Homo sapiens: one gene and its partners. The protein of the gene in region 5 binds, or shares a complex with, the protein of the main gene of each other region. Each region holds a gene or a part of one and is shown on either strand. Other genes may lie near its edges. The genes, in order: CHD4, RBL1, CHD5, MYBL1, RBBP4, MYBL2 and RBL2.

Region 1 (4,106 bases), on a different chromosome or scaffold from region 5:
AAATCTTCTCTATATCTCAGTAAGTTTGCGGTTTGCCATTTCAGCATATTATTTGCCTGAGAAGTTTGGGGGGCTCCATGTGCATGGAAGGATGTCCCCTTTGCCTCCATGGGTTGTCTTTGTCTCCACTTCCAGCTTTTATGGGGGTGGTGAGATGTAGCTGATGGGGGTTGGGGGTTGACTTGGGGATTGGTGGGGAAAAGTCCTTAAGAAAATGATTCTTTCTGGTGAAATCCAGGCTGATGTTGCATTCCCAAGGGGGAATGGGAGGGGCGTTCTTGTGCCTGGTCTTATTCTGGGCTGAGAAGCAGGGAGGCTGATGGTGCTTTGTCCAGCCTAATGTCTCATTCCCTAGTATCTGTCTAGCTCAGGAAGTGGGGAGCCAGAGACATTTTAGGGCTAATTTTGGGGGTTAAGAGCTAAGAACATGTCAGGGATTGAAGGAGGGATATTATTTTCTTTTTTATTTTTGAGATGGGGTCTCACTCTGTCGCCAAGGTTGGAGTGCAGTGTGCGATCTTGGCTCACTGCAACCTCCGCCTCCCGGGCTCAAGCGATTCTCCTGCCTCAGCCTCCTGAGTAGCTGGGATTACAGGCACCCACCACCATGCCTGGCTAATTTTTGTTTTTTTAGTAGAGACAGGGTTTCACCATGTTGGCCAAGCTGGTTTCGAACTGACCTCAAATGATCTGCCCGCCTCAGCCTCCCAGAGTGCTGCGATTACAGGCATGAGCCATTGCACCCGATTGGGATATTCTCTTCTACCACTGTCTAGGTCCTGCTCTGTTTTTTTGTGCAGACATTCCCATATGTTGGATAGGAATCTGGGTGGGAGTGGTGAGGAAGCTGAGCTTCAGAGACTTCTTGTGGGCCTCCATTCCTCAAACTAAATCTTTTGGGTATCAGAAATTTGGGGAGAAGGTTGTATGCGCTGACCACAAGTCCACTGAGCCTTTGTTAAATCTCAGCTCTGATGATTGAAAAAATAATTATGATTGAGGGAGTGATCGAGTTCTTCTCTTAGTATTACCTTCATGTTTGTCTCGCTTTCCTTGGGTTTCCTTGCTTAGGATGTTAGGGTGGGCTCTTGTGAACTGTTGTCATCCCAGAGTAGGTGGCATTTGGACCTGGGGCCAGGTAATTTGGGGAGGCTTCTATGAGGGCAGTCTCCCCCCCCGCCACCCCACCTCTCTCAAACCCACCCCCTCCCCTGCCACTTCCTGTCTGTCCTATGTTGGCAGCTGGGTGCCCTGGGCTGGCTTCTGCGGTCAGGAGCCATTTTCCCTCTCCTCAGTGGGTGAGGCACTCCCTTCTTCTCTCCACTCCTTTCTCTACCCACCCCCCTTTGGGCGGGGGTGGCTTGGGAAGAGGGAGAGAGGAGGGAGGAGGGAGTCGGAGCCAGTGTGAATGTCTGTTACAAAGGAAGCTGCCTCCTGGTCTTCTCTGTGTCCCTTCCCACCTATCCTTGCCCAGGAGCTTTCAGTCTTACCCAGGCTTTGTGTGTGCCTCCAGCCAGGGGAGGAGGTGGAGCCAGATGGGAGGAGGCTTGCTGGGGGGCGGGTGTAGGGGAGATGGTGACAGCTGGGCTGATTCGGGCCCCTAGGGAGAAGAGGCTGCTGACCCAGGAGAAGCTGAGGAGGAACATTAGGGTTGGAGATGGGGAAAGGAAATTGTATTTTAGAAGTGGGCATGAGATTGAGCTGGCACCTGAACCTAGGACTTGGAGGTTCTGGTTAATTTGAGCAGTGATGACTTCAAAGTGGTTAGAGAAGGGTGTGGTTTCCGAGACCCCTGAACTGATCCTGTTCTGGGAAGGTATATTCTATAGTTTTTGCCTTCTGAGTAGGATCTTTCATTCTCATTCCCTGGTTTATAGAATAACTTGGTGGCCAGTTACAGGAGGCCTAAATCTAGTTCTCTTACTTGGTGAACTCTGAGCAGCTCAGTTCAGCTGTACTGGTGAACATCTAGAGGACTGGTAGGAACGGGAGAGAGGAGGCAGGGGTCTGGACAGCTGCCCGAGGTGGGCCTGGTCTGGCCTGGCAGGCCTATTTCGGGTATATACAGCTCTCTCTTTGTCTGTTTTTGTCCTGGGTATCAGCTTCCTCCTGTACAGAGTATAGCAGTTCTCTTCAGAGGAATCTGGGACAAGAGGTGGGGAATAAAGTCTAAAGCCTCTGGATTAGGGCCTAACCTTTTGCTATTGATCTTTTCCCTGCCTACCACTCTTTGCCAAATATATGTAGAAAATGAAGAGGACCCAGAAGAGGATTTGTCAGAAACAGAGACTCCAAAGCTCAAGAAGAAGAAAAAGCCTAAGAAACCTCGGGACCCTAAAATCCCTAAGAGCAAGCGCCAAAAAAAGGAGGTGAGTGGGTGACTGAATGTTACGGGGAATCAGAGGAAGAAGGGAGGAGCTCTGAGAAGGGTTGAAGGGCTGAGGGCATTTGTTTCTTTCTCAGAAGTGGTGGGCCATGTTCTGGGGATGAGCCTCAGGGCTGTCCTGAGGTCAGCATGTGTGTAGCATGTGTGTGTCTGTCTCCCTCTTCCCCCCTTGCCCTGCTCCAGCGTATGCTCTTATGCCGGCAGCTGGGGGACAGCTCTGGGGAGGGGCCAGAGTTTGTGGAGGAGGAGGAAGAGGTGGCTCTGCGCTCAGACAGTGAGGGCAGCGACTATACTCCTGGCAAGAAGAAGAAGAAGAAGCTTGGACCTAAGAAAGAGAAGAAGAGCAAATCCAAGCGGAAGGAGGAGGAGGAGGAGGAGGATGATGATGATGATTCAAAGGTGCCTGGACCTCCATCCTCTTCTTTGTACTGTTAAACTTTTGTCTTTTTGTTTCCTAGACACCTTACTGCCCTTTAGAACACTTTCTCTTCTTTTCCTCTTAACTCTGTTACTCTGATTTTTCCACACAAATTTGCTTAGCAAGTGTGGGCACTAGGTGGCAGGTACTTACTTGACTTTGCTCTTTCTGCAGGAGCCTAAATCATCTGCTCAGCTCCTGGAAGACTGGGGCATGGAAGACATTGACCACGTGTTCTCAGAGGAGGATTATCGAACCCTCACCAACTACAAGGCCTTCAGCCAGTTTGTCAGGTAAAACAGAAGGGGTTTGGGGAAGGGGGAGGAGAATCTTTCTGTTCTCTCTTCTTACTTCTCTTTCTTTTTTTATTCTTAAACCTTTCCCTCTGCTCTTGTGCATTTCTCCACCAGACCCCTCATTGCTGCCAAAAATCCCAAGATTGCTGTCTCCAAGATGATGATGGTTTTGGGTGCAAAATGGCGGGAGTTCAGTACCAATAACCCCTTCAAAGGCAGTTCTGGGGCATCAGTGGCAGCTGCGGCAGCAGCAGCGGTAGCTGTGGTGGAGAGCATGGTGACAGCCACTGAGGTTGCACCACCACCTCCCCCTGTGGAGGTGCCTATCCGCAAGGCCAAGACCAAGGAGGGCAAAGGTGAAATGGGGTTCAAATGGGAGTGGGGGTGTCTAGTGTGGGCTTAAGATGTCAAAGACAGCATGGGAATGCTGGTCTGTCAGCCCTAAGGTAGGAGATAGGAGGGAGGAATGAGTCTTGGATTTTGGAGGGAAATTTGGGAATCTGAATGTGGGGAAGCAAGCTTAGGTGGAGAAGATTTTATTTTCCCCATCTTTGGTCTTGTGGTATATATTTGGATATATCCTGATTTTAGGTCCCAATGCTCGGAGGAAGCCCAAGGGCAGCCCTCGTGTACCTGATGCCAAGAAGCCTAAACCCAAGAAAGTAGCTCCCCTGAAAATCAAGCTGGGAGGTTTTGGTTCCAAGCGTAAGAGATCCTCGGTGAGAGCCCAGCCCATCGCTTTAGGGAGGGTGCCATGTCTAATAGAAAGGATGTGACCTTCTATCAGAACCTGTCCTTCATAGTAGGCACGTAAGAATGTGGGGCGTTTCCCACAGAACAAGATGAGACTAGGCTCCCTGTATAACGGTGCTTGCTGGGATTCTGGTGTCCCCAGTGAGAGAGTACTCCCCTCTCTGCCACTCTGTCCTTCCCCTTGGCTTGAACGTCTAACCTTATTCTTTTTCATCCTGCCAGAGTGAGGATGATGACTTAGATGTGGAATCTG
Region 2 (4,106 bases), on a different chromosome or scaffold from region 5:
AGGACAACAGAGCAAGACATTGTCAAAAAAAAAAAGAAAAAGAAAAAAAAAAGGGGGCCCGGGGGGCGCCAGGCACAGTGGCTCACACCTATAATCCCAGCACTTTGGGAGGCTGAGGCAGGTGGATCACTTGAGGTCAGGAGTTTGAGACCAGCCTGGCCAACGTGGTGAAACCCCGTCTCTACTAAAAATAGAGAAAAAACATTAGCCGGGTGTGGTGGCGCATGCCTGTAGTCCCAACTATTCAGGAGGCTGAGGCAGGAGAATTGCTTGAACCTGGGAGGCAGAGGTCTCAGTGAGCCAAGATGAGGCCACTGCACTCCCACCTGGGTGACAGAGTGAGACTGTCTCAAAAAAAAAAAAAAAAAGTCCAGCTGCAGTGGCTCATGCCTGTAATCCTAGCATTTTGGGAGGCCAAGGCAGGCAGATGGCTTGAGCTGACGAGTTCGAGACTAACCTGGGCAACATGGCAAAACTCCCATCTCTAAAAAAAAAATACAAGCCGGGCACAGTAGCTCACTCCTGTAATCCCAGCACTTTGGGAGGCCGAGGAGGGCAGATCATGAGGTCAGGAGATCGAGACCATCCTGGCTAACATGGTGAAACCCTGTGTCTACTAAAAATATTTTAAAAATTAGCCGGGTGTGGTAGCATGTGCCTGTAGTTCCAGCTACTCAGGAGGCTAAGGCAGGAGAATTGAACCCGGGAGGCAGAGGTTGCAGTGAGCCGAGATCACGCCACTGCACTCCAGCCTGGGCGACAGAGCAAGACTCCATCTCAAAAAAAAAAAAAAAAAATTTACCAGGCATAGTGGCTTGCACCTGTAGTCTCAGCTATTTGCGGGGGTTGAAATGGGAGGATCACTTGAGCCCAGGAGGTCGAGGCCACAGTGAGCTGAGATGGCGCCACTGCACTCCAGCCTGAGTGACCAAGTGAGACCCTGTCTCAAAAAAAAAAAAAAAAAGAATTCAGTCATAACCTAGAATTACTATTTTGTAGCCTTCTTATACACACAGATATATGTATATATAATTGTCAAAATATATATAGTTGACAACTTTCCTAGAACATATGCAGATTATTTCTAATAATGCTTATACATTCAGGTGTCGCAAATGATGCTGGAGAGATCACACTGATACCTCTTTCCATGAATACAAATCAGGAGTCCAAAGTCAAGAGTCCTGTATCACTTACTGCTCATTCATTAATTGGTGCTTCTCCAAAACAGACCAATCTGACTAAAGCACAAGAGGTACATTCAACTGGAATAAACAGGCCAAAGAGAACTGGGTCCTTAGCACTATTTTACAGAAAGGTATGTGTTTTTATAGCACTTTAGAAGAATTTGTTTAATCAATGGAAGAAAGATTGAGTAACAGAGACAGACTTTGGTCTTTTTTTTTTCTAATATACATAACACAAAATTTACCATTTTAACCATTTTTAAGTGTACAGTTCAATGGTATTAAATACATTCACATTGTTGTGCAGCTTTATTACTACCGTCTATCTCCAGAACTTTTTCGTCTTCCCATTCTGAAATTCTGTATCCATTTCTCCCTTTCCCCAGCTTCTGGCAACTACTATTCTACTTTCTGTTTCTGTGAATTTGACTACTCTAGGTTCTTCCTATGAGTGAAGTCATACGATATTTGTTTGTTTTTGTGACTGGCTTAGCGTAATGTCTTCTAGGTTCATTCATATTATAGCTTGTGCCAGAATTTCCTTCCTTTTCAAGGCTGAATAATATTCCATTGTATGAAGAAGAGAAAAAAAGAACAAAAGAAAAAATATTCCATCATATGAATATACTTTTTTTTAATACCACATTTTGTTTATTCATTCATCTGCTGATGGGCATTTGGGTTGCTTCTACCTTTTGGCTATTGTGAGTTATGCTGCTATGAACATTTGTGTACAGGTGTCTGTTCAAACCAGGCGTGGTTGCTCATGCCTGTAAACCCAGCACTTTATGAGGCCGAGGCAGGAGGATCACTTGAACCCAGGGGTTTGAGACCACCCTGGGCGACACAGTGAGACCCTATCTCTATTTTAAAAAAAAAAAAAAAAAAAAGCAGCCAGGTATGGTGGCAGATGCCTATAGTCTTGGCTATTTTGGAGGCTGAGGTGGGAGGATCACATGAGCCCAGGAGGTTGAGGCTACAGTGAGTCGAGATCACACCACTGCGCTCCAGCCTGGGCAACAGAACGAGGCCCTGTCTTAAGAAGAAAAAAAAATAGCAACAAATATCTATTCAAGTCTCTGCTTTCAATTCCTTTGGGTATATTCCCAGAAATGGGAGAGTAATTTAGTATTTCATTTTCTGAGGAACCACCGTACCATTTTCCACAGTGGGTGGACCATTTTACATTACCACTAGCAAGGCACAAGTGTTCCAAGTTCTTCTCATCGTTGCCAACGTTTCGTGTTTTCTGGTTTGTTTGTTTTTTTGATAATGGCCATCCAATGGGTATAAAGAGACATCTTACTATAGTTTCAATTTTCATTTCCCTAATGATTAGTAATATTGAGTATCTTTTCATGTGCTTTTGCCCATCTATATATCTTCATTATAGAAATGTCTATTCGAGTCTTTTGCCCATTTTTTTAATTATGAGTTTTGGGTTTTGTTTTTGTTAAATTGTAGGAGTTCTTTATGTATTCTAGATATTAATCTCCTATAAAATATACTATTTACAAGTATTTTCTCCCATTCTGTGGGTTGCCTTTTCATTCCGTTGATAGTGTTCTTGACACATGAAAGTTTTTAATCTTAATAAAGTCAATTTATTCTTTTCATTTTTTGTCTGTGCTTTTGGTGTCATACACAAGAAATCATTGCCAAATCCAGTATTATAAAACTTTTCCCCTATGTTTTCGTCTAAGAGTTTTATAGTTTTTAGCTCTTATATTTATTATGTCTATTTTTTTTTGAGACAGAGTCTCACTTTATCACCCAGGCTGGAGTGCAGTCACGCAGTCACAGCTCACTGCAGCCTCCGCCTCCCAGGTTCAGATGATCCTCCCACCTCGACCCTCTGAGCAGCTAGGACTACAGGCATGTGCCACCATGCCCAGCTAATTTTCGTTTTTTGGGTTTTTTGTTTTTGTTTTTTTTTTTTTTGAGACAGAGTCTCACTCTGTTGCCCAGGCTGGAGTGCAGTAGCGCAATCTCGGCTCACTGCAACCCCTGCCTCCCGGGTTCAAGCAATTCTCCTTTCTCAGCCTCCTGAGTAGCTGGGACTACAGGAATATGCCACCACGCCTGGCTAATTTTTGTATTTTTAGTAGAGACGAGGTTTCACCGTGCTGGTTTGGCTGGTTTCAAACTACTGACCTCAGGTGATCCACCCACCTTGGCCTCCCAAAGTGCTGGGATTACAGGTGTGAGCCACCACGCCGGGCCTGTTTTTGAACTTTTTTGTAGAGACGGGGTTTCACCATGTTGCCCAGGCTGGTCTCAACTCGTGAGCTTAAGTGATCTGCCCACCTCAGCCTCCCAAAGTGCTGGGATTACAGCCGTGAGCCACCACGCCCAGCCCATTTTAATTTTTGTATATGGTGTTAGATAAGGGTCTAAAGTCATTCTTTTGCACATGGATATCCATTTTTCCCAGCACGATTTGTTGAAAGACTGCCCTTTCCCATTGAATGAGCTTAGAATCCTTGTTGAAAAGTCACTTGAGCATAGATATGGGGGTTTAATTCTGGGCTCTCTATTCTATTCATTGGACTATATGTCTATCTGTATTCAGTACCACACTGTTTTGATAACCATAGCTTTGTGTCATAAGTTTTAAAATCAGGAGGTGTGAGACCTCCAACTTTGTTTTTCTTTCTTAAGATTGTTTTAGCTATTTAAGATTTCTTGAGAGTCTGTATGAGTTTTAGGATGGATTTTTCTCTTTCTGCAAAAACATTGTGGAATTTTGACAGAGATTGCATTGAATATGGAGATCGCATTGGCTAGTGTTGACATCTTAAGAATGTCAAGTCTTCCAGTCCATGATCATAGGATGTCTTTTCATTTGCGTCTTCTTTAATTTCTTTCAGCAACATTTTGTAGTTTTCTGTATATGTCTTTTGCAAGACAAGTCCTTGC
Region 3 (4,106 bases), about 26 Mb from region 5:
CCGCGCCCGGCCGAGAGGGGCTATTTCTGTTCCCCACCTGGACTCCCCAACCAGCAACAAGCAGAGAACAAGGCCACCAGGAGGTCAGGAGGAGGGAGCAACAGGGGCAGCAGAGGCTTCAAGCTACCCCTCCTGGAGGTGATACCAGCAAGTCCCCTCCCCACTGAGCCTCTCTCTTCATCTGTGAAATGGGCCTAATGTGGCAGCCTTTCCCCCAGGGCTATGGGGAGAAGTAAAAACTGTGAATGCAAAGGACCCACACGATGCCTGCAGGGGCTCAGCAATGGCAGGCAGAGCCCAGCGAGACCCAGGAGGGTCAGGGCGGCAGTGGTGAAGGGCAGAGGGCAGCGGTCTCTAGTTTGGCCACTGCTGGGCCAGAGGTTCTCAGGGCCACCCTAGACGCTGGCCAAGGAGTTCTCAGGCTGCCGTTAGTCCTCGAACCTCCCCCCATGAGACAGGGCTTATGCTGGCAAAGGGGGGCAGTACACCGCCCAAGAGAGGATTCATAATTTATTTATGACATTTAACAAAACCCAGACATCACCTCATTGGTGTCACATCAAAAGAAAGCATCAGTCCTGAGTGGGGAGTGGAGGGAAGAGACGGGGATAGATGAGGCATTTACCCCAAGTGACTGGGGCCTGGGGGGAGTCACCCTGGGGGTGCAGGGAAAGCAGGGAGAGGCCCAGGGCATGGGTGGGGAGGAGGAGGACAGAATGGTGAGAGGGGAAGTCAACCTGGGGGGACAGGGAGGGACAAAAGAGAGAAAAACGGCCAGACAGAAAGGGAGAGGCAGGGGCATGACCTCAGGGGAGACGAAAACTGACAGATATGGGGACAGAGGGAGAGAGAGAGACAGGGAAGGAGAGTGAAATAAGGACAGAGCCACAGAGATAAGCAAAAGCCCAGAAAGTTAGACAACACACATTGTGTTCAGTACCCAGCTCAGAGAAGATATTCCAGAAGTCTCTGATGGGTGGACGGATAATTGTATAGTGAATGGATGGATGGTGGATAGGTGGATGGATGAATGCATGGTGGATGGATGGTGAATAGATTGATGGATGATGAATTGATGGATAGATGGTGGGTAGATGGATGGATAGATGGATGGATGGTGGGTGGATGGATGGATGGATGGATGGATGGCAGATGGATGGACACTGGACGGATGGTGGATGGGTGGATAGTGGATGGATGGTGGATGGGTGGATGGACGAATGGATGGTGGATAGATGGTGAATAGATGGATGGATGATGAATTGATGGATAGACGGTGGGTGGAAGGATGGATGGTGGATGGGTGGATGGATGAATGGATGGTGGATGGATGGTGAATAAGTGGATAGATGGTGAATTGATGGATGGATGATGAATTGATGGATAGATGGTGGGTGGATGGATGAATGGTGGATGGAAGATGGAGGATGGACGGATGGATAAATGGATGAATGGATGAATGACGGATGGATGGATGAAAGATGAATGGATAGATGGATGGATAGATGGTGGGTGGGTGGATGGATGGATGGTGGATGAAGGATGGATGGTGGGTGGGTGGATGGATGGATGGTGGATGAAGGATGGATGGATGGATGGATGGATGGCAGATGGATGGCTGAATGGATAATGGATGGATGATGGATGGATGGTGGGTGGATGAATGGTGGATGAATGGATGAGTGGATGGTGGATGGATGCATGGATGGATGGTGGATTGATGAATAGATGGACAATAGGTGGATGGATGGATGGCAGATGGATGGATGGTGGGCGGATGGTGGGTGGATGAATGAGTGGTGGATGAATGGATGAGTGGATGGTGGTTGGATGCGTGGTTGGATTGTGGATTGATGGATGGATGGTGGGTGGATGGATGGATGGATGCATGGATGGATGGTGGATGGATGAATGAATGGATGGTGGATGGATGAATGGATGGTGGATGAATGGATGAGTGGATGGTGGATGGATGCATGGATGGATGGTGGATGGATGCATGGATGGATGGTGGATAGATGAATGGATGGATGACGGGTGGATAGATGGATGAATGGTGGGTACAGGAATGGATGGATGGTGGGTGGTGGATGAATGGATGGAAGCATGAATGGTGGATGGGCAGATGGATGGATGGTGGATGGGCAGATGGATGGATGGTGGATGGGTGGATGGTGGATGGACAGATGAATGAATGGTGGATGGATGGATTGGAGGATGGATGAATGAATGGTGGGAAGCATGGACAGATAGTGCATGGATGAATAGTGGATAAGAAGAACAAGAACAAATGGATGGATGGATGGATGGATGGATGGACGGACGGACGGATGGATATACATATGGATAGATAGGTGGATGGTGAATGGTTACTTGGTTGGTTTTGTGGGTCGACGGGTAGATGTGGGAGAGCAGGTAGATACATGGATACATGGATGCATGGATGGATGGATGGATGGTGGGAAGCATGGACGAATAGTGCATGGATGAATAGTGGATAGGAAGAACAGATGGATGGATGGATATGGTATGGATATGGATTGATAGGCGGATGGTGAACGGTTACTTGGTTGGTTTTGTAGGTGGATGGGTAGATGTGGGTGGGTAGGTAGATGGATGGATGGATGATGGGTGAGCGACTGAATGAACTGATAAAATGATAGATGGATCCTATTACCTGATCAACTTGGAATGACAATGAATAACCCACTGGCCAAGCCACTGGGCAAAGTGTGCTGGTCATTTTGTCTCCCTCCTCCCAGAAAAGAATGTTAAATACAATCAGGCTCCCTGGGACCCCCCTACCAAACCATGCTTCCACAGGGGTAGGGGTGCAGGCTAAAATGTCATGGCCTTTTGGGAATCATGACTGTCACTCTCTCCTGGCCCCTGGACCTGAGGAAGCAAGCCTAAGATACTTACACATCTAGGGCCAATTGTCACTGGGGCCAGAGAGGTAACGGTGCCTAGTCCAGACATTGCCCATTCTGGGCTCACTAGCTTTGTCTGTGATTGAGGAAAAGCTGGGCCAATGAGGCAGGGAATTTGCCAGCCCAGCAGTGGCCCTAAGAGGGCTGAGAGCCACATTTTCTGAAGCCCTCTCCTGCTTCCTGCCACCCCTACCTTGGGCTTCACAGCCCTCCTCCCACCCAGGCTCCTACTCCCCTGAGCTTACTGGCTAAGGATGCAAGTATCAGAAGCATTTCCTTGGAGAAGGCAGGACAGCTGCCCTCCTTGGCTGGTGCTAACTACACCAGCCACAGTTTATTGAGCACCTATCATGTGCTGGGCACTGTGGCCTAATGTTCCACATGCACTGTCTCACTGTTCCTCATAATAACCCTCTATGAGGTAGCCAGTGCTATGTCCCCATACTACAAGTGGGCACACCGAGGAGAGGGCTGCCTGGCTTGTCCAAGACCACTCAGCTAATGCTCAGAGCTAGAAGCCAAGGCCTCATCCCACCAGCTCTTGACCCCTGGCTTCAACCAGCCACCCCAACTCCCAGGAGAATCTGGCAACTGCTGGTCCCCCAACCAGAAGAGGCACCCGCCCTGCCTTCCTCCTAGAAGCTGGCTCAGACACCTGCCTCAATGCCAGAGCTGGCCAGGGCAAACCTCCCCCTCCCCACCATCACTGCACGGGAAACAATAATTCACTGCTGAGAGTGAGCAACTCCCAGGGGGAGGTGGGAGATGAGCAGAGTCAAAGAAAAAAGATCGGACAAGTCATGAGTTTAATAGCCGTAGACTGAAAAATCATCATGACAGCTTCCAAAACACTAGCTCCTCCAGCCACAAACTTCCATCTTTTGGAACCAGCTGGTTCTGGTCTTTGGGGGTCACCGCCACTGAGCTTGGACTCAGGGCTGCATAGGGGCTATGAGGAAGAGCTCAGGGTGAGTGGGGGGCCAGCAGTGCGACTTGACAGGAGGCCTGGCTAGGGCTGTCTTCACAGCCAGAAGCTGGGGTGACCTAGAGAGTCCCAGCCCTCAGACACTGAAACCACAACCATCTCTCAGGAACGCATGGTTTCAGGTGCTGGGCATGGCAGGTTATCGAGAGTTACATTCGAAGGGGAACCCACAGATCCAGGAGGAAACTGAT
Region 4 (4,106 bases), on a different chromosome or scaffold from region 5:
TGGACTATTGAAGTGTGTTGAACTGTAGAAGCAGATCATAGGGGAATGGGAGAATCTTGGTGTTTTGCCTGGTCAAATATGAAGAATTTTGTTCCAATGGAATTGACAAGTCAATGGAAGTTAGACGTTCCTACAAAGGATCTATAGACAGTATATATTAAATCTGGGCCTTCATTTTTCAATTTTGTAAGATTAAAATTACATAACTTACATAGATATTAGAAACTACTTGCATGCGCTTAACTATATTAGAGTAAGGTTAAACAAATCTTCAAATTTTGCTCTGTGAAATCAGAATGAATTTTTGAGAAAGAGTTGAATCTAGTAAGGCAAAAATAATTTTGAATACTATTAGGTGATCAGCCTATGCACGTAATACTAATATTGAGGCACCTTTCTGTGCCATGTGCTGTATGAGGTGTTATATATGTTTTCTCATTTAATTTTATCCTTAAAGCAGCACTATAAGGTAGGTGGTATTATTATCATTTTACAAACAAGTAAACTAAACCCCTGAGAGGTTAACATGTTCAAGGTTACAGAGTGAGTAATTAAGTTAGAACCAGAACCTTGTTCTGATTCCAAAATGAACTTGAGGTTTGTCTTTAGTATCTTCCAGCTTCCTAGCACTTTCCCCCTATTTTTCCAGTATGTCGTAGTATAGCGGTTAAGTAGTGACTGTGGGCAAGAGGTTACATTTCTGAGTCAAAGTTTCCTATTCCGTGAAATGGGAATAATGATAATATTCCCCTCTTCCAGTTGTGAGGCTTTAAGAGAAAAATTTAATAGACTACTTAGAAAGTTTTAAATAAATGGTAGACTGTGTTATTTTCAGATGCCATGACTTTATTCAGTCCACTGCCTACTCAGAATCCTCTAATTCAGTTTACTTATTTATTTATTGAGACGGAGTCTTGCTCTGTCACCTGGGCTGGAGTGCAATGGTGCAATCTCGGCTCACTGTAACCTCTACCTCCCGGGTTCAAGTGATTCTCCTGCCTCAGCCTCCCGAGTAGCTGGCATTACAGGCACCCACCATCATGCTCCGCTAATTTTTGTATTTTTAGTAGGGGTTTCACCATGTTGGCCAGGCTGGTCTTGAACTCCTGACTTCAGGTGATCCGCCTGCCTCAGCCTCCCAAAGTGCTGGGATTACAGGTGGGAGCCACTGCGCCTGGCCTTGTATTTCAGTTTATCATTAAGGCTTGCCCTTTTTTATGGGGCTTTATTCTTTAAAATTGCTTTTTCTTTTTTTACTCCATCAAAACTCAGGTTCTGACTTTGGCCCCTTCCTCACTTTATTAATTTTCCTTGGGTCATCCTGTGCCCTCAGCTATTCTTTGTATGCTGGCCAAAACTGCATCTCTACCCTAGACCTTGTATTTGAGCAGGTCCACATGCTCATTTGCCTTCTAGATTTGCTCTGCCCTGTAGGATAGCCATTAGCCACATGTGGCTATTGAGCTCTTGAACTGTGGCTAGTCTGAATTGTAATGAACTCTAACTACAAAACACACACCAGATTTTGAAGACTTTAGTAAGAAAAAAATATGTAAAACATTTCATTTATACTTTTTTATGTTGATTACATGTTGAAATGATTATATTTTTGATATATTAAGCTAAGGAATATTGACTATTGAAGTACATTTCACTTATTTCTCTTTTTTTAAAAAATGTGGCTACTAGAAAATTACATATGTGGCTTGTATTATGTCTCTGTTGGGAAGTGCTGTTCCAGACATCCACCTGTGTATTTTTCAAGTACCTTGAAAACAGCTAGTCCCAAACTATACATACTCTCCCCATTTTCTTCTCTCTCCCAAAGTTCTGTTTCTCCTTCTATCATTTTCCATAGTAAATAGCTCTACTTATGTTTTCAAAGCCAGAAACTTTGGAGTCATCCTTAATTCCTCCTTCTTCCATGTCCCTCATCTATCAGTTGCAAAATCCTTTCTTTTCTACTTTTTAAATATCTCTCAGTTTAATATATTTCTTTCAATTCCTAATATCATTACCTTGGTTGATCTATTTTATCACTTCCAGATTTTTGTCACATTTACCTGTCTTTTACTCAAGGATATGAAAAGTAGACTTCTTTTCTGTTTTCTTATAGTACTATTATGGTTTCATGTAAAAAATGTAAATAATTGCTTCACTCCAGTTTATTTTATTGTAAAGTAGGACACCATCTTTTTTTTTTTTTAATTTTGAAATGGAGGTTCTCTTGGTTGCCCAGGCTGGAGTGCAGTGGTGCAGTCTTGGCTCACTGGGTACAAGCGATTCTCCTGCTTCAGCCTCCCAAGTAGCTGGGATTACAGGCACATACCACCACACCCAGATAATTTTTGCAATTTTAGTAGAGACAGGGTTTTGCCATGTTGGTCAGGCTGGTCTCGAACTCCTGACCTCAAATGATCTGCTCGACTCAGCCTCCCAAAGTGCTGGGATTACAGGTGTCCACGCCCAGCCCATCTTAATTTTAAAAAATGGCTACCCAGTGTCTTAACACCATTTATTGAAAAGTCTACCTTTACTCCACTGATTTGAAATGTTACTGTTATAATTTACCAAATTCCATGTGGGTCTTTTTTCTTTTCTAAATGTTCTGTTCCATTTATCTATGTGTGTGTTCGTGTGGTAGTACCATTCTGTTTTATTTCTCTACAGTGTATTTTGATATTGGGTAGTGGTAATTCTCTGATTATTCTTTTTTAAAACTTTTCTTGCCATTCTTCTTGATTTTTTTTTTTCATATGAATTGTAGATTCAGCTTGTCTAGTTGCCTCCCAAAGTCTATTGGTATTTTTATTCATTTAATTTAATTTATGAATTAGGGAGAATGGACATCTCCCTAAATTAGAGAATGGACATATCTATAATATTGTTTTCTTATCCAATAATATGGTCAGGAGGCTGGGCATGGTGATGCATGCCTGTAATCTCAAGCGTGGGATTTGGGAGGCTGAGGCAGGAGGATCACTTGAGCTCAGGAGTTCAAGACCAGCATTGCGGGTGGAGCAACATAGCAAAACCCCATCTCTACAAAAAATAGAAAAAATTAGCTGGGCATGATGGTGCATGCCTGTAGTCCCAGCTACTCGGGAGACTGAGGTGGGAGGATTGCCTGAGCCTGGGAGTTTGAGGCTACAGTGAGCTGTGATTGTGCCACTGCACTCCAGCCTGGGTGACAGAGCAAGCTGAGACCCTGTCTGGAAAAAAAAAAAAAAGTCAGAATGTTCTTCCATTTGTTCAAGACATCTGTGTCTCACAACAGTGTCTTGTCACTTACTGTACCTTTATCTTGTATGTTAAATTTTTTTTATTGTTGGTATTGTTAATTGGATCACTTCTATTGTGTCTTTTAATTGGCTGCGGTTTATATTTTACCATTACCATTTGTCAGGCCCCAATAATTTCTTGCTTGGGTTGTTGTGAAGATTACTAATTGGTTTTTCTTTTTCAGTTTCACCACACTCTTGTCACTGATTTTTCTAAAACACAAGATATCTGTCTTTTGTCTTTTGCTGTGTTAAAATTATTTAACTCTTTAGAATAAAGGTCAAATAAAGAATAAAGGTCAAATTCCTTAACATGACGTACAAGGTTATGATTTTTCCCGTAGTGGCATATCCAACCTCATGTGTTTGGTGTCAGTAAGAAGTATAGTTCCAGGCCAGGTGCAGTGGCTCACGCCTGTAATCCCAGCACATTGGGAGGCCGAGTCGGGCAGATCACAAGGTCAGGAGATCGAGACCATCCTGGTTAACACGGTGAAACCCTGCCTCTACTAAAAATACAAAAAATTAGCTGGGCGTAGTGGTGGGCGCCCGTAGTCCCAGCTACTCGAGAGGCTGAGGCAGGAGAATGGCGTGAACCTGGGAGGCGGAGCTTGCAGTGAGCCGAGATCATGCCACTGCACTCCAGCCTGGGCGACAGAGCGAGACTCCGTCTCAGAAAAAAAAAAAAAAAAAAAAAAAAAAAATATATATATATATATATATATATATATATATATAGCTCCACCCCACCCCGCTGTCTGACTCTTAATTTTTTGTACTTTGAATAATTTCATTGTGAATATGACTTGTAGTCTGTATGATTTC
Region 5 (4,106 bases):
TCTGAATATTTTCAATTAATGGCTAGTTGAATTCATGGATAAAGAACCCACTGATATGGAGAGCTGACTGTATTTCTTATTAGTTATTTAACTACCTGGAGTCACGGGGGTAGGAAAGCACTTTATAGTGCTAGCAAATGTATAGATTACATCTAGTATTATGCCAGTTTGTTGCTAAGGAAAAAAAATCCTTTCCTGTGTTCTTATACTCTGGGTAACCTCTAGAGTAGCTCTTGTTTTGTCCTCATTTGCAATTAATTTATTCACAGAATTTGGAGGTTTTGGTTCAGTTAGTGGAAAAATTGAAATAGAAATCAAGATCAACCATGAAGGAGAAGTAAACAGGGCCCGTTATATGCCCCAGAACCCTTGTATCATCGCAACAAAGACTCCTTCCAGTGATGTTCTTGTTTTTGACTATACAAAACATCCTTCTAAACCAGGTATGTGCCCTTTTCTATTCAAATACAAATGAGTCACTATAGAAATACATGGTTCCACTCACTGTGAGTTTAATTGCATGTTACTCTGTGTAATTTAACATCTTGTGATTTGTATTGATATGTGTATATTTTTCTTCATTTTGCCTCCATGAAAAAATAATGCTTTTTTACATAGAACAAAATACTGGTGCTGTTTAAGCATTATCTATTTGATCATAACGGTTCCTATATCATTTATAAATGTTAAGAGCTTTAGACATCTTGACCAAAATTCCATTATGCTCAGTAGGCCCAGAGAGCCAGTGGACTGGGTAGTCTTGATGTGTCTGTCACTTTGCAGATCCTTCTGGAGAGTGCAACCCAGACTTGCGTCTCCGTGGACATCAGAAGGAAGGCTATGGGCTTTCTTGGAACCCAAATCTCAGTGGGCACTTACTTAGTGCTTCAGATGACCATGTGTGTATCCTTCCCATTTTGAAGCAAATCTGGGCTAGTTACCAGTTGGTTTCTTTTTTGGGGTGTGTGGGGAGGTGAGAATCTTCCTTTTATATAATGGTTAATTTTACATTTAAGACCATCTGCCTGTGGGACATCAGTGCCGTTCCAAAGGAGGGAAAAGTGGTAGATGCGAAGACCATCTTTACAGGGCATACGGCAGTAGTAGAAGATGTTTCCTGGCATCTACTCCATGAGTCTCTGTTTGGGTCAGTTGCTGATGATCAGAAACTTATGATGTGAGTAGAATCCATTCAGAGTTTCTAAATATCTTGTCTAAGTTTTATGTTTAGTCACCATTTCAAGGTTTTTTTCCTTTGTTTTTTTTTCACTGAAGTTGGGATACTCGTTCAAACAATACTTCCAAACCAAGCCACTCAGTTGATGCTCACACTGCTGAAGTGAACTGCCTTTCTTTCAATCCTTATAGTGAGTTCATTCTTGCCACAGGATCAGCTGACAAGGTCAGTTTCGTTTATTTTAATAGAAAACATAATTTCTCTAGGTTTTTTTGAATTGCAGAGATATTTTACTTACAGTATTTTTTTTTTCTTAAAAAATTGATTACTCTTGCTTTTCTTTTTGTACATAGACTGTTGCCTTGTGGGATCTGAGAAATCTGAAACTTAAGTTGCATTCCTTTGAGTCACATAAGGATGAAATATTCCAGGTAAGAGAAACTAATGCTACTATTTTGTTTGTTTTAAGAAAAACCTGCTGGGCGCGGTCGCTCACGCCTGTAATCCCAGCACTTTGGGAGGCTGAAGCGGGCGGATCACAAGGTCAGGAGATCGAGACCATCCTGGCTAACACGGTGAAACCCTGTCTCTACTAAAAATATAAAAAATTAGCCGGGCATGGTGGCGGATGCCCGTAGTCCCAGCTACTCGGGAGGCTGAGGCAGGAGAATGGCATGAAACCCGGGAGGCAGAGGTTGCAGTGAGCCGAGATTGTGCCACTGCACTCTAGCCTGGGCGACAGAACGAGAGTCCGTCTCAAAAAAAAAGAAAAAAGAAAAACCTGGATGTATGAGTGGGCACACATGTGCTTTATGCCGTTGCTAAAAATAGAAATCTATATGCCTATGCTACTTTCTGTGGGAATTGTTTTTTCTTTGTTATTTCTATACTTTCTCAAACTGGTTATTGACCACTTACATTCTTCAGATATTAAGAAAACTAGGCCAGGTATGGTAGCTTATGCCTGTAATCCCAGCACTTTAGGAGGCTGAGATGGGTGGATTGCTTGAGGCCAGGAGTTTGAGACCAGCCTGGCCAACCCTGTCTATTTTTTAATAAAAATTTACAAAGAAAGGAAAACTAGTGCCTGATTATTTTTTCAGCCTTGTTTCTGACACTTAGTGATCTCTTCCCTTCTTCCAATATATTCTTCATCCTTCATTACTTGCCACATGTGTTGATTTCTCAACCCAAGCCTCAACCTCTGGCTCCATATTTTCTACCTCATCAGTTTAAACCCATTTATGCCTAGTGTTCCATTATTGGAACGCTAAGCATGTGGGAGTTTATATCCTGCTCAAGGTTATCGCCCAGGTCTGATTGCAAAAATTAAAAAAAGAAATAATCACTGCACTATGTTCAAAGCTTGTTGCTACGGCACTATGAAAGATTACGTTATGTAGCCTTTGCTATCAAGGAGCCCCCAATTTTTTTATTTTTTTTTAATTAATTTTTTTGAGACGGCATTTTGCTCTTGTTGGCCAGGCTGGAGTGCAATGGTGCAATCTCGGCTCACTGCAACCTCCACTTCCCAGGCTAAAGGGATTCTCCTGCCTCAGCCTCCCAAAGTGCTGGGATTACAGGCGTAAGCCACCACGCCCAGCCGAGCCCAAAATTTTATAGTGAGGGAGGGCTTGTTTAGAAATTACTATAATAAAAGATTTTGTCAAGTGTTATGAACCTGAGGGTGGTAAAGATTAATTCTGGTGTGTGAAGGTGGCGTCTGAACTGGGCTTTAGGTGAGCCATACTCCTACATACTTAGTCTCTTATTTTCTACTTTTCAGCCCACCTTGGTGAACATTTTATCCTTACCCTATCTCTTTGCTTTGCTTGTGACGGTATTCTTGCCTGGACAGAATCCAAATTCTTCCTTAATTGCTGGTCACTAATGCCCTCTTTTTCTGTACCTTAAGGCTAGGTAGCACTTTTACCATATTTGGTAGCAAACTCTGATTGTTGGATATATAGTAGTAAATTTTTTGTCTGACTCTTTAATAAAATTATTGCATGGAGTCATTTTTAATCAGACTTATATGTAATACAGAACTCATAGTAAATACTTGGGGACATAGTTATTGTATATGTCATCTGTACTTTAGTTCTTAGGTCAGAATTGGATTGCATTTGGGTAGAGGCCAGAATTAGCAAATAAGAATAGACAAGATGTAGGCCGGGCACGATGGCCCATGCCTGTAATCTCAGCGCTTTGGGAGGCCGAGGCGGGTGGATCATGAGGTCAGGAGTTTGAGACCACCCTGACCAACATGGTGAAACCTCGTCTCTAATAAAAATACAAAAATTAGCCAGGCATGGTGGTGCACGCCTGTAATCCCAGCTACTTAAGAGGCTGAGGCAGGAGAATCGCTTGAACATGGGAGGAGGAGATTGCAGTGAACTGAGATCACCCCACAAGAACAGACAAGATGTGATGTTTCCAAAGATAAAATGATGCTGGGCACATGGCACACACCTCCAGCTACGCAGGAGGTTGAGGCAGCGAGATCCCTTGAGCCCAAGAGTTCAAGTCCAGCCTAGAAGCAATATAGCGAGGCCTCATCTCTTTTTTTTTTTGATACCAGCCTAACCCCATCTCTACACAAATACAAAAATTAGCTGGCCGTGGTGGCGGACACCTGTAATCCCAGCTACCTGGGAGGCTAAGGTGGGAGAGTCGCTTGAACCTGGGAGGTGGAGGTTTCAGTGAGCTGAGATCCTGCCATTGTACTCCAGCCTGGGTGACAGAGCAAGACTTCCGTCTCAAGAAAAAGTGTGCCAAAGGGGTGCTGTGGGAATGGAACAAAAGCTTATATCCTGGGTCTAGAAATGTCTAGTAATGGGTTGTTTTTGTAAACATTTTTTTTTTGTTTTTCTTTTTGTTTGTTTTTGAGAGAGTCTGTCACCCAGGCTGGAGTGCAGTGGCACGATCT
Region 6 (4,106 bases), on a different chromosome or scaffold from region 5:
TCTCTACAAAAAATACAAAAGTTAGCCGGGCGTGGTGGCATACCCCTGTAGTCACAGCTACTTAGGAGGCTGGGGCGGGACGATCATTTGAGTCCAGGAGTTCAAGGCTGCAGTGAGCTACGATCATGCCACACTGAATTCCAGCCCAGTGACAGAGTGAGACCCTGTCTCAATAAAAATAAGTGAAGCAGAAGTGCCTATGTCTTAAAAAGAAGAAAAAGTAAGAGCCTCTCTCCCCCAGACCTTTCCCTAGGGTGGGCTGGCCGCTGCCTACACGTTCTCCATTATGTAAAACATATGGACACACCATCCTTGACCCTTGGCCTGCTTTCCCCATAGCGAGGATCTGGATGAGCTGCACTACCAGGACACAGATTCAGATGTGCCGGAGCAGAGGGATAGCAAGTGCAAGGTCAAATGGACCCATGAGGAGGTGAGTGCCATGGGGAAGAGAGGGTTGATGGCAGCTGGGGGCTGTCCAGAGGAACTGAGCCTGGAGTGTATTTGATGTCTCATCAGATGGGATGAAGAGGAGGAGCCGGTGAAGGAAGGGATGGGTCCTCTGATTGTCCTCATGCCTCTTCTCAGAGCATTCTGGGGGATTCTCAATTTTGAGGACTCAGTGGGTGGGAAGGGGATGTGTGTCCTAGACCTCAGGGCCCATTGTGTCTCCTGAGCAGCTGCCATGTTCTATGTCATGGACATTGATTGTGCTTTTTGCCTTTTGACTGCTAGGAGGTTTGGCCAAATCTGTAACTCCCCCCACCCTTTTTTTTTTTTTTTTTTTGAGACAGAGTTTCGCTCTTGTCACCCAGGCTAGAGGGCAATGGCATAATCTCAGCTCACTGCAACCTCTGCCTCCTGGGTTCAAGCGATTCTCCTGCCTCAGGTGCGATTACAGGCGTGAGCCACCACATCCAGCTAATTTTTTTTTTTTTTTGAGACAGTCTCGCTTTGTCACCCAGGCTGGAGTATAGTGGCATGATCTTGGCTCACTGCAACCTCTGCCTCCCAGGTTCCAAGCAATTCTCCTGCCTCAGCCTCCCGAGTAGCTGGGATTGCAGGCATGCGCCACCATGCCCAGCTAATTTTTTTTTTTTGTATTTTTAGTAGATACGGGGGCTTCACCATGCTGGCCAGGCTGGTCTCGAACTCCTGACCTCATGATCTGCCCGCCTCGGCCTCCCATAGTGCTGGGATTACAGGCGTGAGCCACTGCACCCGGCCTTAATTTTTGTATTTTTTAGTAGAGACGGAGTTTCACCATGTTGGCCAGGCTAATCTCGAACTCCTGACCCCAGGTGATCCACCTGCCTCGGCCTCCCAAAGTGCTGGGATTACAGGCATGAGTAACCGCACCCTGCCAACTCCCACTTTCTTTTTCTAAAATAATTAACTGTATTGAACCTTCTGACATCAAGCCCTGAATTGGTTTCCTTCTAGCTCCATCTTTTTATTTTATAATAAATGTGATTGAAATATAATTTATATGTAATCATATGCAATCAAATGCCCTTTTTTTAATTCCTTTTTGAGACAGGGTTTTTGCTCTGTCACCCAGGCTGGAGTGCCGTGCTAGCATGGCTCACTGTAGCCTCAACTTTCTGGGCTCAAGCAATCCTCCCCCGTCAGCCTCCTGAGTAGCTGGAACCACAGGCATGCGCCACCACGCCTGGCTAATTTTTGTATTTTTTGTAGAGACAGGGTCTCGCCATGTTGCCCAGGCTGGTCTCAAACTTCTAGGCTCAAGCATTTCTCCCACCTCAGCCTTCCAAAGTGCTAGGATTATAGGTATGAGCCACTGTCCCTGGCCAAATGCCCCTTTTTATGGTGAACAGTTTGATCAGTTTTTTTTCTTTTTTTTTTTTTGAGATGGAGTCTCTGTCTCCCAGGCTGAAGTGCAATGGCGTGATCTCCACTCACTGCAACTTCCGCCTCCTGGGTTCAAGCGATTCTCCTGCCTGAGCCTCCTGAGTAGCTAGGATTACAGGCACCCGCCATCATGCCCAGCTAATTCTTGTATTTTTGTAGAGATGGGGTTTCACCATGTTGGCCAGGCTAGTCTTGAACTCCTGACCTCAAGCAATCCACCCACCTTGGCCTCCCAAAGTGCTGGGATTACAGGCATGAGCCACTACGGTGAGCCGGTTTGATCACTTTTGACAAATGCATATACCAATGTAAGCACCACCCTGATTATCCCAAGAAGTTTTCTGTGGTCCTTTGTGGTCAGGCTTCCCCAGCTCCAGGAAATTGCTGATTTGATTTGTTTTGCCTTTTTCTTTTTGGGGGCTTTGTGTGTGTGTGTGTGTGTGTGTGTTGTTTTTAACTTTAGGTTCAGGGGTATATGTGCAGGTTTATTATATAGGTAAATTGCATGTCGTGGGAGTTTGATGTACAGGTTATTTTGTTACCTAGGTAATAAGCGTGGTACCCAATAGGTAGTTTTTTTTTTTTTAAGGCAGTCTCTCTCTGTTGCCCAGGCTGTAGTGCAGTGGTGTGATCTCAGCTCACTGCAACCTCTGCCTCCTGGGTTCAAGCGATTCTCCTACCTCAGCCTCTCAAGTAGCTGGGATTACAGGCACGTGCCACCACGCCTGGTAAATTTTTGTATTTTTAGTAGAGACAAGGTTTCTACTTGTCTCTACTAAAATGTTCACCAGGCTGATCTTGAACTCCTGACCTCAGGTGATCTTCCCACTTCAGCCTCCTGAAGTGCTGGGATTACAGGCGTGAGCCACTGCACCCAGCCCCAATAGGTAGTTTTTTGATCCTCATCCTCCTCCCACCCTCCACCCTCCTCCCACCCTCCACCCTCAAGTAGGCCCTGGTCTCCTTGTTCCCTTCTTCGTGTCCATGTGTATTCAGTGTTTGGCTCTTACTTATAGATGAGAATATGCGGTATTTGGTTTTCTGTTCCTGTGTTTGCTTAGGATAATATGTTTTGCCTGTTCTTGAATCTTCTATAAATGAAATCATACGGTTACATTCTTTGCGTCTGGCTTTTGCTCAGCATTGTGTTGGGTGATTCAGTAACTTGTCCTTTTCTATCACTGGATAGTAGTCCATTGTATGGGTATACCACACAGCGTTTCACCTGTTGATGGATGTTTGGACTGTTTGCAGTTTTTGGCTATCGTGTATAGCGCTACCTTGAAGATTCTTGCATAAGTCTTTTTGCAAATACATGTTTCCCTTTCTTTTGGGAAGATAGGTATGGTCATGGGGTAGGTGTATGTTTAGTTTTACAGAAACTGCCTTTTTCTTAATGGATTGTACCATTTTAGACTTCTACTGGCCTTTTTATTTTACCTCAGTTTTTCTTAGTGTCTTCAGTTCTTCAGTGTTTTTTGTTTTGTTTTGTTTTCAACCCATAGTTAACATCATAGATGTCTTTAATTTTAGGATTGGGTTTTTTTTTTTGTATTGTATTATTTGTATTGCTTTTGTTTTTTGTTTTTAAATAGAGAAGAGGGTCTTGCTATGTTGCCCAGGCTGGTCTCCTGGGCTCAAGCAATCTTCCTGCCTTGGCCTCCCAAAGTGTTGGGATTACAGGCAGAAGCCACCATGACTAGCTTGTTTTGTTTTTTCTAAAACTTGCTGTGTGAGTGGTAAACTCCTTTTAAATCATGAAAGATGTTTTTCCAGATGCGTGCTAAGCAAACCTTTTCTGCTCATCCTGTTGTGGACCAGGGACTATATTTGGCTCTTGTGGGCTTAGAAGAATAAACAAGACCAAGTTCCTACCCCAGAGCAGATTTCTCTCTGGAATGGAGAGATAAGACCGTGTGCAGGTCCCTGGAATGTGCTGTGGTCATCCGCGGCACCGGTAGGATCAGTGTCTGTTGGTGCTCACTGTTGTAGCTCTGGGCACCTGCTAATTGTAAGATGAGTGGATGGCAAGTACCTTTAGAAGGAGAGATTACTGCTGCCTGAAGAGGTTAAGGAAACTTATGTGGAGAAAGTGACCTTTGAGCTAAGGATGAGGATTTGGAAATTTAGCAGTGAGGGAAGACCTACAGTGTGCAAAAAGTGGGTAAGTCAGATCAGGAAAGGGGCTATAGGTGGAGAAAAGCCAGTACAGGAGGCCAGTTTGGTGGGAGGGA
Region 7 (4,106 bases), on a different chromosome or scaffold from region 5:
CTTTGTAGAGAGGTGGTAAAACACCTTAATCAGATTGAAGAACAGATCTTAGATCATTTGGCATGGAAACCAGAGTCTCCACTCTGGGAAAAAATTAGAGACAATGAAAACAGAGTTCCTACATGTGAAGAGGTTTGTGAAAATAACATCTTTTTATGAGAAAAATACATCAATATCTAATCTATTAATAATCCTTTTGGGGATGGGAGGGTGGCAATTAGGTTTAATATGTTATAATTACACCTTGTTATGAGAAAAATCTTGGACTGTAACGTCCCTCTCTACCCACAAATTGGGAAGGTGCCAAGAGACCAAAGAATGACTCAGACAAGTCCAGCTTGGTAAGTAGATAACGTTTATTAAGACTTACATATGGAGGAGGCAGAGGTGGTGGGGAAAAATAAAAGACTTATATACAGGGTACTCCTAGGTAGCAGCAGGACAGCTCTAGAGATCCTCGCCACCTCCCATCGCTAAGCTGCTTTTAAGCTAATTTTCTGGCTCTTTGCCTACTATGTGTGTGCACGATGGGACTGTTTTCCTTGGTAGTTTCTCAGATCTTCTCTGGGATGTTGGGGTTCTCAGGGACACCTGTTCCTTGGCTGGGCACCATGGCCTTGGCTCACTGCCTAGCCTTCAGGGTTTAGGCAGCAGACATACACCCTTAAGTAAGGTAGGTGACCTGTCACATTTCACCCCATGTCAAAGAGGAAACGAGTCAGATAATTTGTGGTTGTCCTAAGATTTTGGTGACAGAGTAAAAATTCAGTGTTCTTTCTTGATTTCCTTACCAAGTTTCTTTCCCATAGAGCAGTGGTCCAACCTTTTTGGCACCAAGGACCAGTTTCATGGAAGACAATTTTTCCATGGACAGGGTTGGGGGTTGGAGAGATTTTGGGATGATTCAACTGCCTTACATTTATTGCACACTTTATTTCTATTATTATTACGTGGTAATATATAATGAAATAATTATACAACTCACCAAAATGTAGAGTCAGTGGGAGCCCTGAGCTTGTTTTCCTGCAACTAGATGGTCCCATCTGGGGGCGGTGGGAGACAGTGACAGATCAGCAGGCATTAGATTCTCATAAGGAGCATGCAACCTAGATCCCTTATGTGTGCAGTTCACAATAGGGTTCACACTCCTGTGAGAATCTAATGCCACCACTAATCTGACAGGAGGCCAGCACAGGCGGCAATGTGAGCGATGGGGAGCAGCTTTAAATACAGATGAAGCTTTGCTCGCATGCTCACTTGCCTGCTGCTCACCTCCTGCTATGTTGCCCAGTTCCTAACAGGGTCCATGGCCCAGGGGTTGGGGACTCCTGCTTTAGAGTGGTTGATATTCAAACTCTCCAAACCAGTAATGAAGTTTGACTCATATTTAGTATCCAATTACAAGGTTTTGAATTTTTTGACTGCCAAAAGTTTTTTTTTTAACTTTATTATTAAAATGGGAAAGACAGCTGATTTTATTTAGATGGAATAATTGTTAAGATACTTTTTCTGCCTTAGATTACTATTGTATTTGTAATTAAAGTGCTTTTTTGGATACTGGCATTCTGTGTAACCAATTCTTCATAGGTCATGCCACCTCAGAACCTGGAAAGGGCAGATGAAATTTGCATTGCTGGCTCCCCTTTGACTCCCAGAAGGGTGACTGAAGTTCGTGCTGATACTGGAGGACTTGGAAGGAGTAAGTTTAAAATACTAGGAGAATATTTTGGGGCTTACTATCTGGAAATTTAAATTTCATCTAACCCTACAAGTGAAGTTAATAGGGTATACATAGAAGAAAATATTCTATGCATTTTTGTACCACATGGATCACTTAAAAGAAGGGCCTTTAAAGACTAAGAACACAGGAAAATGCATGATATAACAGGTATCTTTTAAAAAGGATAGACTGCTTTATTTATTTATTTATTTATTGAGACAGAGTCTTGCTCTGTCACTCAAGCTGGAGTGCAGTGGCCCAATCTCAGCTCACTGCAACCTCTGCCTGCCGGGTTCAAGCGATTCTCATGCCTCAGCCTCCTGAGTAGCTGGGACTACAGGCATGCGCCACCACGCCTAGCTAATTTTTGTATTTTTAGTAGAGAAGGGGTTTTGCCATATTGGCCAGGCTGGCCTTGAACTCCTGACCTCAAGTGATCCGCCTACCTCGTTCTCCCAAAGTGCTGGAATTACAGGCATGAGGCACCGTGCCCGGCTGACTGCTGTATATTTAATATGATCCCTATTTTTAAAGTGTATGTTTATTTATGAGCATACAAAATAGTGGAAATGGAAAAACCAAACTGTTAAGATCATTGTTGGGTGATAGAATTCCTGGTGATTTCTGTAAAATTTTTAAGGCAAATACATATTACTTTTAAAATCAGAAATAGAAAAGCCTTCTTAAAGATAGAGCTGCATGATCCAGTTAGGTATAGACAAGCCAGTGAGTTAAGACAACTGAGTATGTTCCACTTTGTTGAGCTGTGCTACCCTAGTTAATGTGACATTAGTGCTGGCCCAAGAAATACAGAAAAGGGCAGTTTTGCTATCTATCTGGTTTGTATTTTTTAGGCAGCTGCTTAGAAGATCTGCAAGGTGAAAGGTTTTAGTTTACATATGTGAGATAGAACTACTTTTTTAAAGAGCAATTCAGTAAATCCAGAGAGTTCTAAATCCTTGGATCCAATTAAAAGAATATTCTTATTTCTAGATCAGTTTTATAATGTAATTGATAAGAACTGGCTATAGAAGGAATACCAGTTTTAAAGTCAGGATTCACTCTAGGCTGGGCATGGTGGCTCATGCCTGTAATCCCAGCACTGTGGGAGACCTAGTGGGGAGGATCACTTGAGCCCCGGAGTTCAAGACCATCCTGGGCAACATAGCAAGATACCATCTCTACCCCCAACCCCCCCAAAAAAATCACTCTAAGTGTATACTTAATACACATGGATGATCCTTATGAAAAGTCCTCATTTTTGAAAGATCTGACAGCTGGTCTTTCTTAGTCTATTTTTGTAGAATTTTCCGTTCCCTAATCTACAGATTAGGAAGACTTGACTTTAAACTTCATTTTCTTTGTACTTACCACTTCTCAGTTTTCCTGAGATCTCTTGATATTTTATAAGAAAAAATGATCATAATCTATTCTTTCTGATTCTGCAGCTTTGTACCAAATACAAATCTAGTAAGTTTATTTACTTTTGTATCATCTGGAAATAGAAATGTTAAGCCACAGTTTGTTAGGATTTACTCCTATCAGTACTTCTTACAAACTTTCTATGTATATTTTAAATTTTAAAAACACTCTGATGCACAGCTCTTAGAAGTGGACACAGAAGAAGGAAGAAATGCTTCTCAAAAATTCAGACATTGGTGTGAATACTTAAAAATAGACTAAGCCATAATGGGTTGTGTACCACTGAATCATACACTTAAAAATGGTTGAATGGTAAATTTTATGTTATATATATAACCACAATTTTAAAAAACTAGCCTGTAATACCAGCATTTTGGGAGGCCAAGGCGGGTGGATCACCTGAGGTCAGGAGTTCGAGACCAGCCTGGCCAACATGGTGAGACCTCATCTCTACTAAAAATACAAAAATTAGCCATGCCTTGTGGCATATGCCTCTAATCCCAGTTACTTGGGAGGCTGAGGCACAAGAATCACTTAAACCCAGGAGGCAGAGGTTGTAGTGAGCCGAGATCAGGCTACTGCACTCCAGCCTGGGTGATAGAGTAAGACTCTGTCTCAAAAAATAAAAAAAATAGTAACAATTTGCCCCAAACCATTGAATTGTATAATTTAAGTAGATGAAATTTATGGTATATAAACTGTTTTAAAAAAATAAATTATGCTTAACTGAATCCAAATCATGCATGTCCACCTTGCTTAAGAACATTATTGAGTTTTAATAATTTTTTATATGTGGAAAAAGACAGAGATCAAAATTGATAAAACCGGTGGCGGAATGCTCCTAGATGACATACTACCAATCAGGTCCCCTTATCAAGTAGTGGCTCTGTAGTAAAATCACATCTTACATGAGTGGTAGGTAGAAAGTGGATATGATAGAAAATATTATAGAAAAATATAATAT

What was found.
Region 1: RBBP4 (region 5) and CHD4 share a complex: the UniProt entries of both Homo sapiens proteins name them as parts of the nucleosome remodeling and deacetylase (NuRD) repressor complex.
Region 2: RBBP4 (region 5) and RBL1 share a complex: the UniProt entries of both Homo sapiens proteins name them as parts of the DREAM complex.
Region 3: RBBP4 (region 5) and CHD5 share a complex: the UniProt entries of both Homo sapiens proteins name them as parts of the nucleosome remodeling and deacetylase (NuRD) repressor complex.
Region 4: RBBP4 (region 5) and MYBL1 share a complex: the UniProt entries of both Homo sapiens proteins name them as parts of the DREAM complex.
Region 6: RBBP4 (region 5) and MYBL2 share a complex: the UniProt entries of both Homo sapiens proteins name them as parts of the DREAM complex.
Region 7: RBBP4 (region 5) and RBL2 share a complex: the UniProt entries of both Homo sapiens proteins name them as parts of the DREAM complex.

The regions. Positions count from the first base shown.
Region 1 is NC_000012.12:6,600,639-6,604,744, reverse strand, and holds part of CHD4 (chromodomain-helicase-DNA-binding protein 4), read left to right. Parts: intron 1-2,247; coding exon 2,248-2,369; intron 2,370-2,569; coding exon 2,570-2,785; intron 2,786-2,978; coding exon 2,979-3,097; intron 3,098-3,214; coding exon 3,215-3,456; intron 3,457-3,691; coding exon 3,692-3,819; intron 3,820-4,075; coding exon 4,076-4,106. UniProt on the Homo sapiens protein: ATP-dependent chromatin-remodeling factor that binds and distorts nucleosomal DNA. Acts as a component of the histone deacetylase NuRD complex which participates in the remodeling of chromatin.
Region 2 is NC_000020.11:37,029,877-37,033,982, reverse strand, and holds part of RBL1 (retinoblastoma-like protein 1), read left to right. Parts: intron 1-1,106; coding exon 1,107-1,318; intron 1,319-4,106. UniProt on the Homo sapiens protein: Key regulator of entry into cell division. Directly involved in heterochromatin formation by maintaining overall chromatin structure and, in particular, that of constitutive heterochromatin by stabilizing histone methylation.
Region 3 is NC_000001.11:6,173,392-6,177,497, forward strand, and holds part of CHD5 (chromodomain-helicase-DNA-binding protein 5), read right to left. Parts: intron 1-4,106. UniProt on the Homo sapiens protein: ATP-dependent chromatin-remodeling factor that binds DNA through histones and regulates gene transcription. May specifically recognize and bind trimethylated 'Lys-27' (H3K27me3) and non-methylated 'Lys-4' of histone H3.
Region 4 is NC_000008.11:66,602,613-66,606,718, reverse strand, and holds part of MYBL1 (myb-related protein A), read left to right. Parts: intron 1-4,106. UniProt on the Homo sapiens protein: Transcription factor that specifically recognizes the sequence 5'-YAAC[GT]G-3'.
Region 5 is NC_000001.11:32,667,956-32,672,061, forward strand, and holds part of RBBP4 (histone-binding protein RBBP4), read left to right. Parts: intron 1-269; coding exon 270-443; intron 444-783; coding exon 784-899; intron 900-1,016; coding exon 1,017-1,177; intron 1,178-1,275; coding exon 1,276-1,402; intron 1,403-1,530; coding exon 1,531-1,608; intron 1,609-4,106. UniProt on the Homo sapiens protein: Core histone-binding subunit that may target chromatin assembly factors, chromatin remodeling factors and histone deacetylases to their histone substrates in a manner that is regulated by nucleosomal DNA.
Region 6 is NC_000020.11:43,673,467-43,677,572, forward strand, and holds part of MYBL2 (myb-related protein B), read left to right. Parts: intron 1-339; coding exon 340-433; intron 434-4,106. UniProt on the Homo sapiens protein: Transcription factor involved in the regulation of cell survival, proliferation, and differentiation. Transactivates the expression of the CLU gene.
Region 7 is NC_000016.10:53,465,471-53,469,576, forward strand, and holds part of RBL2 (retinoblastoma-like protein 2), read left to right. Parts: coding exon 1-132; intron 133-1,587; coding exon 1,588-1,699; intron 1,700-4,106. UniProt on the Homo sapiens protein: Key regulator of entry into cell division. Directly involved in heterochromatin formation by maintaining overall chromatin structure and, in particular, that of constitutive heterochromatin by stabilizing histone methylation.